2 linked regions of the Homo sapiens genome follow. The protein of the gene in region 2 interacts with the protein of the main gene of each other region in a pairwise test. Each region holds a gene or a part of one and is shown on either strand. Other genes may lie near its edges.

Region 1 (7,578 bases), on a different chromosome or scaffold from region 2:
CTTGGAGGGAACAGTCTGTGCTGGAGGGTGTGTACAGCCCCACCCACTGCATTCCCACTGAACCAGGACTGGGGCAAGGAGAGGCTCATCCCACCCTGTGGAGCTGGCAGAGAGTGCCCTCAGATTCTCCACCACGACCCAATCCCTAAACTTGAAATCCCCCGCCTTCCTGCCATGGAGGGAGAATGGGGCCCAGTGGCCCCTCACCACTCAGGCTTGCCCCACAGTGGGTGGCCTGGTACCCAGCTCTTCCAGGTCAGTGGAGTAGCAGGGGATCCTGGGACCCCCAGGGAAGAATTTCCAGAAAGCTGCAGGCTTGGCCTCCATTACCCCCTCTCCCCCCTGCCCCCCAGCTGGTCCCTCTGGGGTCCTGAGGTGAGGGGCTTTCTAGAAGCATAGGTAGTGGGCAGAGAGTGGCTACGGGGAGGAGACCAGGGGAGCCTGGGGCCGGCCCACTGTGTGGCAAGAAAGCAGAATGGAGAACGGGACGAGGTGGGCTCACACCGGAGATTGGACCCTCCCCTGCAGGGGCACTCGAGCCCCTTCTTGGTGACATCCAGCAGCTGGTGGCCTGCAGACCTGCTCTGTCAGCCACTCACCCAGAGGCAGCCTCGCCTCGCTGGCCTGGGAAGGGCTGGCTGGGGCTCCTGGACTCGGCCCCTAGCCAGACTCAGCCCCTCCCTGAACTCTGTCCCCTCTGCCAGCCCAGATGAATGGCTGTGTGTGTGTGTGTGTGTGTGTGTGTGTGTGTGTGTAGCAATCTGTTCACTTTTTGCAAATCTATTTTTTAAAAGTTTCTTGGAGGCTGCTCCTGGCAGGATGGAGGTTTCTTGGGGGTGGAGGTGGCTGTGGCCATGCACTCCTTTGGACGTGTCCTAGATGACATTCTCAAACAGCTGCATGGAGCTCATGATGTTCTCATCCTGCATGGAGAGAGGAAGGGAGGCCTTCAGGTGCTGGGTGGGCTCCAAATCCGACCCCCTTGAGCAGATTCCCGCCAGGGACTCGGAGCCTGCAGCGACTGCCTGTCTGTCTGTCTTATTGGGTGCAGGGAGCTGGGGGACAGGGAGGTGAAGTAGCTGGTCCGAGGTCCCCAGCTGGTGAGGCACAGCCTGTCTTCAACCCCACTCCTGACTGCAAGCCCATCTGGGATGAGCTGATGAAGGCGATCCCGGCTGGCCTCCAGAGGAGGTGGGCGCTAACCAGGACTGCTCTGGGAGTGGGGCAATAGAGGCGCTGGAGGCCCAGCATCCTGCCCCCTGAGGTGCTCTCTGGAAGGGCCAGCAGCAACACTGCGGAAGCTCTGGTGCCTCCCCACGGTGACCCTCTCCCTCTGGCTGGCCCCATGTCTGCCCCTAACTTGAGGTTCTCCAGGGACTGGGCTGAGGGAGGGTGTGGGGGTAGTGGGGGGATGCTGTGGGCTGCAGGGGTGGGTGGGGAGGAGGAGACTCAGACAAGAGGGCAAGTGGAGCTTGGGGCTGTCCAGGAGGTGGCAAGGGGCCAAGGACAGCTGCCACATCCTGGACTGGCAGGGGTGGGACTGGGGTGAGGGAAGGGGCAGACGCTGCCAACCACCCACCTCCGTGTAGAGCCTGCAGAGAACTGTGGCCCAGCCTCCCGTGCCACCTACCTTCTGACAGGCCTCCAGGAACTCTTCAATGGTCACTACCCCATCCTGGTTCCGGTCCATTTTCTGCAACCCAAGCCATGCCCAAAGTGAGTCTGTGCCCCAGCAGAGACAGCCCCGCCCCTGGCCTGAGGACGCAGAAGTCATGGGTGGGTGGATGGGCGGGTGGGTGGATGGGCGGGTGGGCTCCCTCCACTCTAACTTGTCCCCTGTGACTACTCTGGATCCAGGCCACATAATCCACCCTTCATAGCCACCTCCCAACCAACTGCTGAGGCTCCAAGCATCTCCCCACTGCTCCCCTAGGCCAATTCCCTGAGCCCTCCTGGGCTTGGGTTTCCCAGAATTTGTCCCCATGCTCATCTGACCGCCTCACCTCCCTGAGAGGCAGCCAGGGCAGAGGGAGCAACTGAGTCACAGGATGGCCCATGTCTAGTGGCCCCAGCAAGTAGGAGGCAAAGCCTGCAGCCCCTGCAGCCGCCATGCATACAGGTGAAGGCCCCCAACCTGCTCCTCTCCCAGAGCGTCTTCCTGGAGGAGCCACACAGCTCTCAGGAGGCATGGAGCTCCGGCCCAGGGTCAGCTGCCTCAGGATCCCCAGCTCTGGCCCCCAGATGAGGTCCACAGGGCAGAGCAGTGGTGTAGTTCACTTCTCAGGGGTTCTGACAACCAGCCAGACTGGAGGGGCAAGTTTAACCTCCTCATGGGGAGTAGGGAGGCTCAGAGGGGCAAGCCACTTGCCCGGGGTGGCCCCAAAAGCGAGAGCCCCTTCCTCTGCCAGGCTCCCCTCCCTAGGCAGGGCTGGCGCTCGCTCACCTCGAAGAACCTCTCCACGTGCTCCGCCGGCGCGTCCTCCCGCAGGATGGGGTAGGTGTGGCGGCCCATCATGTCATAGATGGACTTCATGATGGCCAGCATCTCCTGGAGGGGGAGGCTGGCATGAGCCTGCTGCAAGGCCGGGGTGGCTGTGAGGGCCCAAAGGGAGCGGGCGGCATCCAAGGGTGCAGGGCACCTCCAAGGCAGTGAGTGCGAGGGGCCGGACGAGCTGGAGAGAGAAGCCTGTCCGCTTCCAGGGCACCCAGAGCGAGCTTCTGACTCTAGGGGAAGCTCATCTCCCAGAGAAGTGGGAGATGGATTGCTATGTGCTTATCTCCAAAATGTGACGCGGCAGCAGAAAAAGTGCTTGGACCAAACAAAACCTGTCTGTGGGCCCATGTGCGAGGGCTCCCCTCTCCACCCATGCCTTAAGGGACCGCACTGCCCCCTTCACTTGATGGGGGCCAAGGCCAGGACCTCTGGCTTCTCCACTTAAATCTCCCCGAGGCCTTTTGTGTAAGACAGTATGACCGAGAACACTTGCTGAGCTGGACCGAGATGTGTGGTACAGGGTACCTGAACCCACACTCCACACCGGGGTGTCCAGGACCGAGCCCAGGAGAGGAGAGCCCACTGGCTGCTGTCCCTGGGGCCAGTCTCTGGATGGACAGCGGGAGAAGACAGGTGGGCAGCAGGAGCAGGGAGAGGAAGAGCGGCGGGAGGGGTGGAGCAGCAGGAGGGGAGGAGGGGACAATCCCTGCCCCCAGCCCCCTACTACCTCTTTGGTGATGTAGCCATCCTTGTTAATGTCGTAGAGATTAAAGGCCCACTTGAGCTTCTCGTGGACTGTGCCCCGCAGCAGGATGGAGAGGCCAACCACAAAGTCCTATGGGGAAAGGAGAGTGTGGGGCGTGACATCCAATCAATGCCCAGGTTCTAGTTCCAGTTGCTGTGTGGCTTCCACTGAAATTCACGCCTCCAACAGGCACAGAGCCTCCCTAAGAGACTGACGGCATCCATTCAGGTCAGCACAGGGTGAGTGTGTGCCCGTGTGTGAGCGCATGCACGGGTGTGCACCTGTGTGTGTGAACTTGTGTGAGGGTGTGCACCTGTGTGAGAACTTGTGTGAGGGTGTGCACCTGTGTGAGGGTGTGCATCTGTATGTGTGAACCTGTGAGGGTGTGCACCTGTGTGTGCACCTGTGTGAGTGTGTGAACCTGTGTGAGTGCATGCGCATGTGTCTGCATGTGTGGCAGGAGTGGCATGGTAGCTGATACTGATGCCAGAGAAAGATATTCAAATATATATGGTGTCCTAGACCCATTTAATGCAGTGCTGCCGCTGGAGACGCCTGGGGTACTCTTTTAATAAAGGAGGTGCTCTATGTTTATTCTGCCAAGCATCTGCATGGCAAAGGTGCTTGAAAACTTCCAGATTAAATAGCTAGAGGAATGATGCTCAGCTTTTTGTTTGTTGTTGTTTTTAGAGACAGAGTCTCAGACTGTCACCAGTCGCCATCATGGCTCACTGCAGTCCCAAACTCCCAGGCTCAAGCGATCCTCCACCTCAGCCTCCTGAGTAGCTGGGACCACTCGGAATAATCCATGCCTGGCTAATTTATTTTATACTTATAGAGATGGGGTCTCGCTATGTTGTCCAGGCTGGTCTCCAACTCCTGGCCCCAAGTAATCCTCCTACCTTGGGCTTCAGAAGTGCTGGGATTACAGGTGTAATCCCAGGGCCACCTCGCCCAAACCTGGTGCTCAACTCTTGAGTCATGACATGCTGTGTGTGGCCATCGCCTTTGGCATGGGAAACTTTACTACTAATATGACAGAATATGGCTGTTTAAATGGTTTCCATGTGACAACTTCAACTGTTTTGTTACAGCAGTTGGTAGAAAGCAGGTTTTCCCCCTACCTCTTGGAAGGTTTAAAGGTGAAACCCTCCCTGCACCCTGGGGTCCTCCCAGGCTACTCTGAAAGAAAGGGGTGAGAAAGGGGCTGTACCAGCGAAGTGGGACAGAGGACGGTCAGAGTGCAAGGGACAGGGCCATGCACCAAGGCCCCGAGGCCCCTCAAGTGTTAGATTTTCGGGACTGGAAGAAGTCTGTACCATGAGAGAGACAGAGACAGAGGAAAGCGATTTGGAAGAACAAAAATTATCCCAGGAGAAAAAAATTTGACAACAACTATTAGGTTCAGAGATTACAAATCTTCCATCACTAAAATAAGAATAGGATGTCCCAAAAAAGAGGTAACTGGAAAAAAGAAAGAGCTCTTGGAAATTAAAAATAAGAAAGCAAAATGACAGACTTAAAAAGAAAGGTTGGGAGAGCAAATGGAATCTTCCATGAAGTGGAATGAGAAGGCAAATAGCTGGAATATAGGGGAGAACAGAGGATAATGAGAGTTGCACTCCAGAGGGGCCAATGCTGGGACACAGGCAGTTCGGGAAGAACGGGAGAAAACAGAGGAAAGTGGGTAGGAGCAATCAGGAAAGACGATTTCCCAGAATGGAAGCAGAGATTTCCAGTGTCCACCAAGGCTTGGCACAATGCATGAAAACAGCCTGCAGTTTAGCTGCAAGCATAGATCATGGTGAAATTTCAGCAAATTGGGTGCAGAGGATCCTATAAACTTTCAGAGAGGAAAGCAAAGCCAAACAGAAAAAGCAAAATCGGGACCCATCACGGGTCAGTGTCAGCAGGGGCACCTGCTCTGCAGCAGCGCCTGAGGCAGGAGGCCCAGGGAACGAAGCGACCCCCAACTTTGAAGGAGAACAGCTCCCCCTGGGGGTGCTGGTCCCTACAATGGATCAAGCAAGAGTAAAAACAGAATAAAGACACTCCCAGGTGCTCAAACGCTCCAAAGTTACAGCTCACATCCTCTTTTATAGGAAGCAGCTGGGCAGTAAGCCCCTGAACACACAGAGAGTAAAGCAAGAGAAAGGCAGATCAGGGATCCCAGAACCAGAAGGCCCAGCCCAGCAGACAGGGGAGGAAGCCCCAGAGGCACCAGGCCCCAGCGAGGATGGAGCTGTGGGAGGCTGGTGGGGGGGCCTCCTCTGGCAGATGCCGGGCAACAGGTTCAGATGACTGGAGAAGGGCCTGGGCTTGAATGAATAATGAGGTCACAGAACACAGACAAACTAATCATCAGGACCAATGTTAACCGTAGGCAAAGGAAAGGAAAAGATCATCGCAATGGACAACAAGCCTCAGCGAGGGGTCCAGTTCACAAATCAGAGTAAACCAAGGCCTTATCCAACCTGAAGCCTAGAGTCTGTTGGAAAGCTGAACTCCTGGGCTCAAGCGATCCTCCCACCTCAGCCTCCTGGGGGATGGGTGGGGGGCTGGGGGGACGGGAACGTTGTATGTCTGAGGGAGTCCCAAATTCTCACTTGTGGCAGGGGGTGGAAAAGTGGAAGCAAGCTTCTGGGGGACATGGAAACAAGCACAGGTGACTGGCTACAGCAGACAAGGTGGTGGTCACCTGCTGGTTTTCCAACGTGCACCCTGCGAATGTGTTGGACTCCAGTCATGTGTGTGTATAACTGAAGACAATGAATATATATATATATATGTGTGTGTGTGTATATATATGTGTGTGTGTGTATATATGTGTATATATATGTGTATATAAATATGTGTGTATATATGTGTGTGTGTGTGTATATATATATATGTGTGTGTGTGTGTGTATATATATATATATTTTGTTTTTGTTTTTGAGATTGAGTCTCACTCTGTCACCCAGGCTGGATGGAGTACAGTGGTGCAATCTCAGCTCACTGCAACCTCTGACTCCTGGGCTCAAAGTGATTCACTTGCCTCAGCCTCCCAAGCAGCTGGAATTATAGGCACCCGCCACCATGCCCAGCTAATTTTTTTTTTTTTTTTGTATTTTTAGTAGAGACGGGGTTTCGCTATGTTGGCCAGGCTTGTCTCAAACTCCTGACCTCAGGTGATCTGACCGCCTTGGCCTCTCAAAGTGCTGGGATTGCAGGCGTGAGCCACCGAGCCCGGCCAATGAAAATATTTTAAAGAAGCAACACCCAGGTGTGGTGGCTCACACCTGCAATTCCAGCACTTTGGGAGGCTGAGACAGGAGAATTGCTTGAGGCCAGGATTTCAAGACTAGCCTGGACAACATAGTGAGACCTTGCATCTACAACAATTAAAATAAAAAAATTAGCTGGGCATGGTGGCATGCACCCGCAGTCCCAGGTACTCGGGAGGCTGGGGTAGGAGGATCACTTGAGGCCAGGAGGTCGAGGCTGCAATGAGCTATGGTGGTGCCACTGCACTCCAGCCTGTCTAAAAATAAAACAAAAAAAATAAAAATTAAAAAACAAGGAGAAACATTGTTATATTTCTACTATGCCCAAGTTTAGGGAATAATAATCACTGAAGCTTGGGCATGGTTTACACAGTAGTGAAGATTCTAAGTTATCCCTGAAGCCCTGGGTCAGACAGGCCTTCCTAGTGGGTAGCAAAGGCGTGGAGCACACCGTTCTCCTGGGGACCCTGGGCAGGCACCGCTGTCCTCCACCTTATCTTCAGCTGACATGGGCCCCTCAGGTGGTCTGTCTGTCTGCTGCGGAGAAGCCCTCATGTTCAGCCACAGAGCCTGCTGCTAGCAGCTGAGGAATGTCCCTATGCAGTATCCCTTAGCCTCTCTCTGTGTGTTGGCTACAGTAGTGACAGTACTAGGAGATGGTGGGAATGTCCTGTTAGGCCACTGGCTAGTCTCCATTCATAAAGGTAATACACAGATGACCCCAAGTCCAGCCAGCCCATGTCTGAGTGCACGCTGGTTCTAAATTCCTTGGCCATACACAGTGCAACCATGGCAAGTTGTAACTCCATGCTCTGAATGCCAAAGTGTAGGAACCCTGTCACATCCACAGCCTCTGTTCTACGGCTGTCCCCATGGCAGGGGCTAGGCAGGGTGAGGGCTCCAGTGACACAGCATACTTCCAGGTGAAGGTGCACAAGAGTGCACAGGAGGGTCTCCCGGCAGAGCCCGGAGCAGGTGCTCAGCGAGGGGGTGGGAGTCGCATGTGGTTGCTGGGCTTGCAGGCTGCCCTCACACGGCCCTGGATGCCGCTTGGCCACTGGCACATGGAGCAGT
Region 2 (8,216 bases):
CGAAAACTGACTTGCCTATTTCTGGCAAACCACAGCCAAACTTCTTGAAACACTCGATTCTTGCTGCCTGTGTCTTCTCACCTCCCATTCATTCCTTAATGAGTTCAGCCTAGTGTCAGCCTCCCGCAGTCCACTGTAACCTTCTGATGGCTAAAGCCTAAGAGCATAGTGTGGGCAGGGTTTCCACTGCTGAGAAGGTGGTGGCTTCCTGAGGAAGGAGGAATCCCAGATCTGAGAGGGCTTAGCAGGACACCGGGGCTCATGGGTAGAGGTGAGGAGGAACTGGGCCTGGTAACAGGGCAGGGTCCTCGGGCACAGACTTCAGCTAAGTTTCAGGAGTCAGGTGGGTTCTGGGAAAGAACAAAGGCTAATGGTCCTGGCCACCCACACACAGCAAGTGAGTTCACCACTTTCTCAAGGGGAGGACCAGGGGTGAGGAGAGCTGGAGAGTGGGACATCTGGGGTTTTGGTGTAAGCCACAACTAGGCCTTGCCCTCAGACCCATGACTCCAGTTTGGATCAATGTTCCAAGGAGCTGTCCTTGAAGAGCGTTGATGCAAGCCAGAATCTCATCTCCTCTTGATAAATTATAGCACAAAGCCCAGGATTCTTACATACCTCTCCCTCATCTTCCCATCTTCCAGACAGATGTCCAAAGCCAGCCAGAAGTGAGATTTGCACGTCCCCGGCTAAGTCAGGAGGCAGATATCCCAGCCACAGATGCCCCCACACAGACTAGCCTTAACCATATTTTTTTTATTGAGCCATTTGGATGGGGGTTAGTGATAAGGGAGTTCTTACTCCTCATCACAGTGCCCCTGCCAAGGAGAGGAGGCTCAGCATCTGCTGCAGCTACTGGGGTAAACATCCCAGTGCAGGCCAATGGCATCGATGAGAGAACCAGACCGGCCACTGATGAAGCGGAGCACGGTGTTGGGGTGCAAGGGGACGGCATTGAAACTTGTGCCACTGTCTTTCCCAAAAGACAGATAGCGGCCCTTGTCTGTCACAAATACCAGCTTCTTCAGGTACCACTTGTACTTCCCAGAAACCTGGATCACTGATTCCCCAGGGTGCAGAAAGATCTCCTCCAGGTCTCCGTTGCGACCACCCACATAGTCGCTCCACACCTTGCCATAGCGCACCTGAAGACTGAGGAAGAGGGGAGGAAGGAAGGAGAAAGAAAGGTGATGATAGGGATGAGAGGTCTCTGGCTAGTCCTACAGACTGTGAAGCCTGGGTGAACCCTGGAAGATCCTACAGGGAACTTCAACTCATTTTGCCAACAAAGAGACTCTGTCACCCAGGCTGGAGTGCAGTGGCATGATCTTGGCTCACTGCAGCCTCAACATCCTGGGCTCAGGCAATCCTCCCGCCTCTCCCTCCTGAGTAGTTGAGGCTACAGGTACTCACCACCATGCCTGGCTAATTTTTTTGTTTTTCTTCGGTAGAGATGGGGTCTTGGTACCTGGAGCATGGTTTAAATCCCTGGCATCCCTGGCATCTTGCCCAGGCTGAGCTAGAACTCCTGGCCTCAAGCGATCTGCCTCTGCCTCCCAAAGCATTGTAATGACAGATGTGAGCCACCGCGCCCAGCCAGGAATTCAAAGAATCTTACCCTACGATGTAGTATGTGTTGACTCGGACCCGGAGGGCGGTGATGGGGCCGTCCAACTGGTTGCCAGAATGAGAGAATCGCTTTCCACCACCACCTCCATACTCTCCACTATAGGAGGAAGACCTGGCCTGAACTGGAGGGGCAAGCAGGAGTTGGAGGGAGAAATCTTCCAGGAGTTCAGTTTCTCTGCATCACCCCTGTTCCTCCGACAACTCAGCTCCCCACCCCAAGCCAACCTCCAAAAGCCTTGGCCAACAGCAGTGCCCAAGGCTGCCTTCCCAAGTCCCCAATACCAGGCTCCTGGTATCTCACTTACTGGCATTGCCAGAGGCTGAGGCACAGAGAAGGGCTAGGAGAGCGACTGTCAACATTCTGGGGCTGGAGTGGGAAGAAAAGAGCAAATGAAGATTCACCTTCTTCCTTGTTGACTTGATTGACCCAGGCACTCCTGACCTGCAGCTCAGACCAAGCCTTCTTCGTCCTTCAACTTAGACCTAGCAGACCCAGTCTTGAGCTTAGAAAGGACTGTCCATAGCCTGTAGTCCTGTTCCTCTCTGATGCTACCTTCAATGTCCCTGACCCCTCCAGCTCTCCCTGGTCTGGCTGTAGCCAAGCCCTCCTCTTTTTCTCTCAGGCCTGAAGATGAACTCTAACTATCTGGATTAAGCCTTATTCCATCCTGGCACAAAGCAGAAAAGTTTTCTGAAGTCAGCCAAGCCCAGGTACATTTGGGTTGGTATGGCCATAGCCAGGAAACGAGTTTTCTAAGGAGGGAGTAGAGGACCTCTCCCAAGCAAAGAGATGGCTGAGTTTACTGAGCCCAGAGGCTGAGCAAAGAAAGCCTCATCATCTGTGGTGAATTGGCCTGGATTATGGGGCACCTGGAGCATGGTTTAAATCCCTGGCATCCACCTGGTCTCAAGGAAAGAAGCATTTTAGAGTTGCCTCTATGTTACCTGGGGAGCAAAGTTGGTGACAGAAGGAACTGTGCCAGCACCAGTATCCAAGCAGTGCTGGTGGAACTAGGACAGACAGAGAAGTTGCAGAAGGAGTCGGGACCAGCTCAAGATATTAGACCCCAGGTGCCTGGTCTATGTGTCACTATTCTTTTCTCCACTAACACACATCTGGCCATTTCTATTCTCCTGAACATCCCAGGTGTCCCCAGTCCTTCAGCAGAGACCTAGACAGCTTTGCACCTAAGATTACTGCAGACCCAGAAGCGCCAATTAACTCAAGTCTTTCCTGCCATTCCTTCCAGGCATCCTCTTCGCCAGCTCAGATTTGAATTCCCCCCCAACTCAGATTCAGGCATCTCTGTCACCCCTCACCTGACAGTTTCAGATGCAAAGCAGCCCCCTGGAAACTTCCAGATGTTTTATACCAGGTCCAAGCCCTCCTCCTGCCCTTTATTGTGTGAACCTCACCTCCTGAGCAAACATGAGCAACCTCTTCGGATCAGGTGTCAGGCAGGGTCTGGAACACCTTATCCTGCCTCTACCCCATAGTCAACAGATACTACAGCATAGGGTAAGATTCTCTGAGTTCCTGGCTGGGCATGGTGACTCACACCTGTCATTACAATGCTTTGGGAGGCAGAGGCAGATCGCTTGAGGCCAGGAGTTCTAGCTCAGCCTGGGCAAGAGTGTGAGACCCCATCTCTACCAAAACAAAAAACAAAAACAAAAATTAGCCGGGCATGGTGACGAGCACCTGTAGCCTCAACTAATCAGGAGGGAGGTAGGGAAGATCGCCTGAGCCCAGGACGTTGAGGCTGCAGTGAGACAAGATCACGCCACTGCACTCCAGCCTGGGTGACAGGTGGCAAGCTGGAGTCCACTCTGGGCCAAGTGCCGTATACCAGGAGAAACATAGTAAACTTAAGGTCACCACCAGCAGCTCTAGGTGGGCAAAGTAGCTTATCACCTCTAGGCTTAGTAGGTGCTCTCACCTGAAATCTGCCATCTGTCAGGACAAACAGAGCCCTTCCCAGGCATTCGAAATGTGGATTCTCCCAGAAGGGAATATATTCCCAAAATCTTATACTTACGAGTGCTGACTATTTGCCAGACATTTTTTTCTTTCCCTTTTCTAATATTATGAAAAATCCAAACACATATAAAAGTTTAAAGAATTGTACAGTGGCTGGGCCCAGTGGCTCACACCCATAATCCAACACTTTGGGAAGCTGAGGCAGCTGGATCACCTGAGGTCAGGAGTTTGAGACCAGCTTGGCCAACATGGCGAAACCCCATCTGTACTAAAAATACAAAAAGTAGCTGGGTGTGATGGCAGGTGCCTGTGATCCCAGCTAGTCAGGAGACTGAGGCAGGAGAATCACTTGAACCTGAGGGGCAGAGGTTGCAGTGAGCTGAGATCACTCCACTGCACTCTAGCCTGGGCGACAGAGTGAGACTCCATCTCAAAAAAAAAAAAAAAAAAAACAAAAGAATCGTATAGCAAGACTGGGTGCAGTGGCTCATGCCTGTAATCCCGGCACTTTGAGAGGTCAAAGCAGGAGGACTGCTTAAGCTCAGGAGTTCAGGACCAACATGGGCAACATAGGGAGATCTCGTCTCTACAAAAAATAAAACAATTAGCCAGGCATGGTGGTGCACACCTGTGATCCCAGCTAGTCAGGAGGCTGAGGCAAGAGGATCACTTGAGCTGAGGAGGTCAAAGTTGCAGTGAGCCATGATCGAAACATCAAGTCTCAAAAAAAGGAAAAAAAAAAAAAGAATTGTATAGTGGACACTTATATAACCACTGTATAGATTCTACTATGGTTAATATTTTGCTGTAATTGCTTTTTTTTCTTTCTTCTTTTTGGAGACACAGTCTTGCTCTATCCCTCAGGCTGGAGGGCAGTGGCGCGATCTCGGCTCACTATAATCTCTGCTTCCCAGGTTCAAGCGATTCTCCTGCCTCAGCCTCCCGAGTAGCTGGGATTACAGGCATGCGCCACCACGCCCAGCTAATTTTTGTAATTTTAGTAGAGACAGGGTTTCGCCATGTTTGCCAGGATGGTCTCGATCTCTTGACCTCGTGATCCGCCCACCTCGGCCTCCCAAAGTGCTGGGATTACAGGCGTGAGCCACTGTGCCTGGCCTGCATTTTTTTTTCTATCCACTCATCTATTTATCCCCAATATGCCAAACACTTCCCAAACCATTTCTCTCTGAGAAGGATGACTGGGGCTGCAGGTGCACAGTGAACACGTGCCTATTGCCCCACAGGAAACAGAGTCAGTCCAATGGGAAGTGCAAAGCTAAGGATCCGAAGGTCTACAGGTGTTCCTCTGGGGGTAATTCTGGGCTTTGGGCCCTCAAGTCTCCTGGGTACCATGGCTGAATCTTCCTGGGGCTGTAGGCCGCCCAGGGCCATTGCTTCTTTCTTAGGTCTGTAACACCCCCAGGGGTGATGTCATAGTTTTTTTTTTCTCTGTATGCCCTTCATTTTCAGGACTGATTCCTCTCTGCCTAAAATCCCTAAGACTGACTCCAGGGACCTAGTGCCTGACCCCTCCTGGACTGGCCCTCTGACCTCTCTGAATCAGGAGGTCCAAGAAGAGGGAAGGATGGAGGACCAGAAGGGGCTGGAATAAGTGCTCTCAATTATAAATGACTAGTCAGGCATTCAGAGCACCCCACCCCTCACAGGTTTACCATCTGGGGCCAATGACTCATCCCAGATAGCAAAGGCAGTCCCGCCTGAGGATCTGGAAATGGGGGGAATCCAGGGTGGTGAGTTCTGGGAGTGAAACAGAACAGCAGCCAAAGATTCCACGTTCACTCCTCCCTTCCCCTCTCTTTTTCTCCAAGGTCAGTGTCAGCACATCCTGCTACTATAACTTTCACCTCATTCCAGCCATTTTGTTTTGTGTCTCTCTCCCTCTCTCTTTCCTGGTGACTCTCCTTCCCTTTATGTCTTCATCTTTCCCTGCTCTGGGGAGGATTTTTCTTTCTTTCTTTCTTTCTTTTTTTTTAGATGGAGTCTTGCTCTGTTGCCAGGCTGGAGTGCAGTGGCGCGATCTCGACTCACTTCAACCTCTGCCTCCAGGGTTCAAGCAATTCCCCTGCCTCAGCCTCCTGAGTAGCTGGGACTACAGGTGCGCACCACCACACCCAGATAATTTTTTCTATTTTACTAGAGATGGGGTTTCACCATGTTGGCCAGGATGGTCTCAATCTCCTGACCTTGTGATCCACCTTCCTCAGCCCCCCAAAGTGCTAGGATTATAGGCGTGAGCCACCACACCCGGCCTTTTTTTCTTTTTTCTTTTTTTTTTTGAGATAGATTCTCGCTCTGTCACCCAGGCTGGAGTGCAGTGGCCTGATCTCAGCTTACTGCAACCTCTGCCTCCAGGGTTCAAGCGATTCTCCTGCTTCAGCCTCCGGAGTAGCTAGAATTACAGGCACCCACCACCATGCCTGGCTAATTTTTGTATTTTTAGTAAAGATGGGGTTTCACCATGTTGGCCAGGCTGGTCTTGAAATGACCTCAGGTGATCCACCCACCTTGGCCTCCCAAAGTGCGGGAATTACAGGCGTGAGCCACCATGCCTGGCCTAAGGGGTTTTTTTTTATATTCCTTCCCTCCATGCCTTTTTCCTTCTGCCTCTTCTTTCCTTGTCCCTACATCTCTCCCAAGCTCTCTCTCTAGCTCTTTCTCCTCTCTAATCCTTGCTTGTCTTCTTCTGTTTAGGGACAGACCACCCCTAGTCTGTGACCAAACACAGGAAGTCAAAGATGGCAGCTCAGAGAGGTCGAGATGGGCACCTTGGAAGAACGCCCTCATGTTCCCAGGCATGACACATCCAGGACCCTCAGGACAGAGGCACCCACATTTGCCACAGCTCCACTCCGTTGCACCCACCCTGCCTGTATGGAGATCCAGCATCTCCTCCATTGCCGAAGACTGCTTCTTGTTCCACTATAGCAAGTCCTCAGTCTCCAGAGTGCAAGAGATGCTTTCCTATGATGGGAGGGGTCTCAAGGCCCATTTTCTGTCCATCCCAGAAACAAGGAAAGCTGCCCTATCGCTAATGCTGGCACCTCTAGGGTGCACTCTCATGTGGGGACTGAGGCAGAAGGAAGAACGTGAAGGCAGTGAGACACCAGGCCCCCATCTCTGCTTCTGCCTTATCAGATCCTGTTTGAGCCACTTTACATTTAACCCACGTGCCAGCTGTGGGCCTACCTGCCCCTTTTAAACTCTAGATGAAGTTGCCTTAAACCTCATCCCGTTCCCGGGCCTGCACGCGTGAATGTCCAAAGCCCTTCCAGAGCTTTCTGCTACTAAACAGAAAGCAACTCAACACATGTTTTTTTGTTTGTTTTTGTTTTTTGTTTGCTTGTTTTTTTTTTTTTTTTCAAGATGGGGTCTTGCTCTGCTGCCCTTTCTTGGCTCACTGCAACTTCCACCTCCCGGGTTCAGGCGATTCTCCTGCCTCAGCCTCCCAAGTAGCTGGGATTACAGACATCCACCACCACGCCTTGCTAATTTTTGTATTTTTAGTAGAGACAGGGTTTCACCATGTTGGCCAGACTTGTTTCTAACTCTGACCTCTTGATCCACCCTCAGCCTCCCAAAGTGCTAGGATTACAGGCGTGAGCCACTGTGCCCGGCTCAACACGTTTATCAAGCATCTCTACATTGGAGGTACCATTCTAGACGCTGAAGAGACAGCAATGAAGAAAAGAGTCAACAGCCGACCTCAAGGAGCTGTAGGGCCAAGGGAAAGCTTCCTTTCTGCTCTCTAGCCCTATAAAGGCTCCCCAAAAAGGAACTGACAATTGGCAAATTAATAGGAGAAAAATGTGTACAAAATTTATGTCACATGTACAAGCATAAGGAAACCACAGGAGAACGATGACCTAATAACCCAACGTGGTCCAGATGCTTATGTAGCTGCCTTCTTCACAGGGGAGGGGAAATGGGGGTGCAGCAATGTTGAGAGGTAGTATGTGATTTTGTGGGGAAATGAATGGGGCCAGGTGCAGTGGCTCACACACCTGTAATCCCAGCACTTTGGGAGCCCGAGGCGGATGGATCACTTGAGGTCAGGAGTTTGAGATCAGCCTGACCAACATGGTGAAACCCCGTCTCTACTAAAAAATACAAAAATCAGCCAGGTGTTGTGGCACATGCATGTAATCCCAGCTACTTGGGAGGCTGAGGCAGGAGAATCGCTTGAACCAGGGAAGTGGAGGTTGCAGTGAGCCGAGATTGCACCATTGCACTCCAGCCTGGGCAACAAAAGCAGAACTCCGTTTCAAAAAAATAGCCGGGCGCAGTGGCTCACGCCTGTAATCCCAGCACTTTGGGAGGCCGAGGCGGGCGGATCATGAGGTCAGGAGATCAAGGCCATCCTGGCTAATGGTGAAACCCCATCTCTACTAAAAACACACACAAAAAAATTAGCTGGGCACGGTAGCGGGTGCCTGTAATCCCAGCTACTCGGGAGGCTGAGGCAGAAGAATCGCTTGAACCCGGGAGGCAGAGGCTGCAGTGAGCAGAGATCACACCATTGCAGTCCAGCCTGGGCCACAGAGCGAGACTCCGTCTCAAAAAAAAAAAAAAAATTAGCTGGGCATAG

What was found. Proteins that work in one complex are often made in the same cells at the same time.
Region 1: the proteins of ZG16 (region 2) and KCNIP3 interact in binary tests that used the Homo sapiens proteins (3 or more experiments, as listed by UniProt).

Annotation. Positions count from the first base shown.
Region 1 is NC_000002.12:95,377,347-95,384,924, reverse strand, and holds part of KCNIP3 (calsenilin), read right to left. Parts: intron 3,330-7,578; coding exon 3,222-3,329; intron 2,549-3,221; coding exon 2,444-2,548; intron 1,694-2,443; coding exon 1,631-1,693; intron 924-1,630; coding exon 876-923; 3' UTR 1-875. UniProt on the Homo sapiens protein: Calcium-dependent transcriptional repressor that binds to the DRE element of genes including PDYN and FOS. Affinity for DNA is reduced upon binding to calcium and enhanced by binding to magnesium. Seems to be involved in nociception.
Region 2 is NC_000016.10:29,773,040-29,781,255, reverse strand, and holds the start of ZG16 (zymogen granule membrane protein 16 precursor), read right to left. Parts: upstream 3,001-8,216; 5' UTR 2,950-3,000; intron 1,997-2,949; 5' UTR 1,990-1,996; coding exon 1,935-1,989; intron 1,752-1,934; coding exon 1,619-1,751; intron 1,153-1,618; coding exon 837-1,152; 3' UTR 1-836. UniProt on the Homo sapiens protein: May play a role in protein trafficking. May act as a linker molecule between the submembranous matrix on the luminal side of zymogen granule membrane (ZGM) and aggregated secretory proteins during granule formation in the TGN.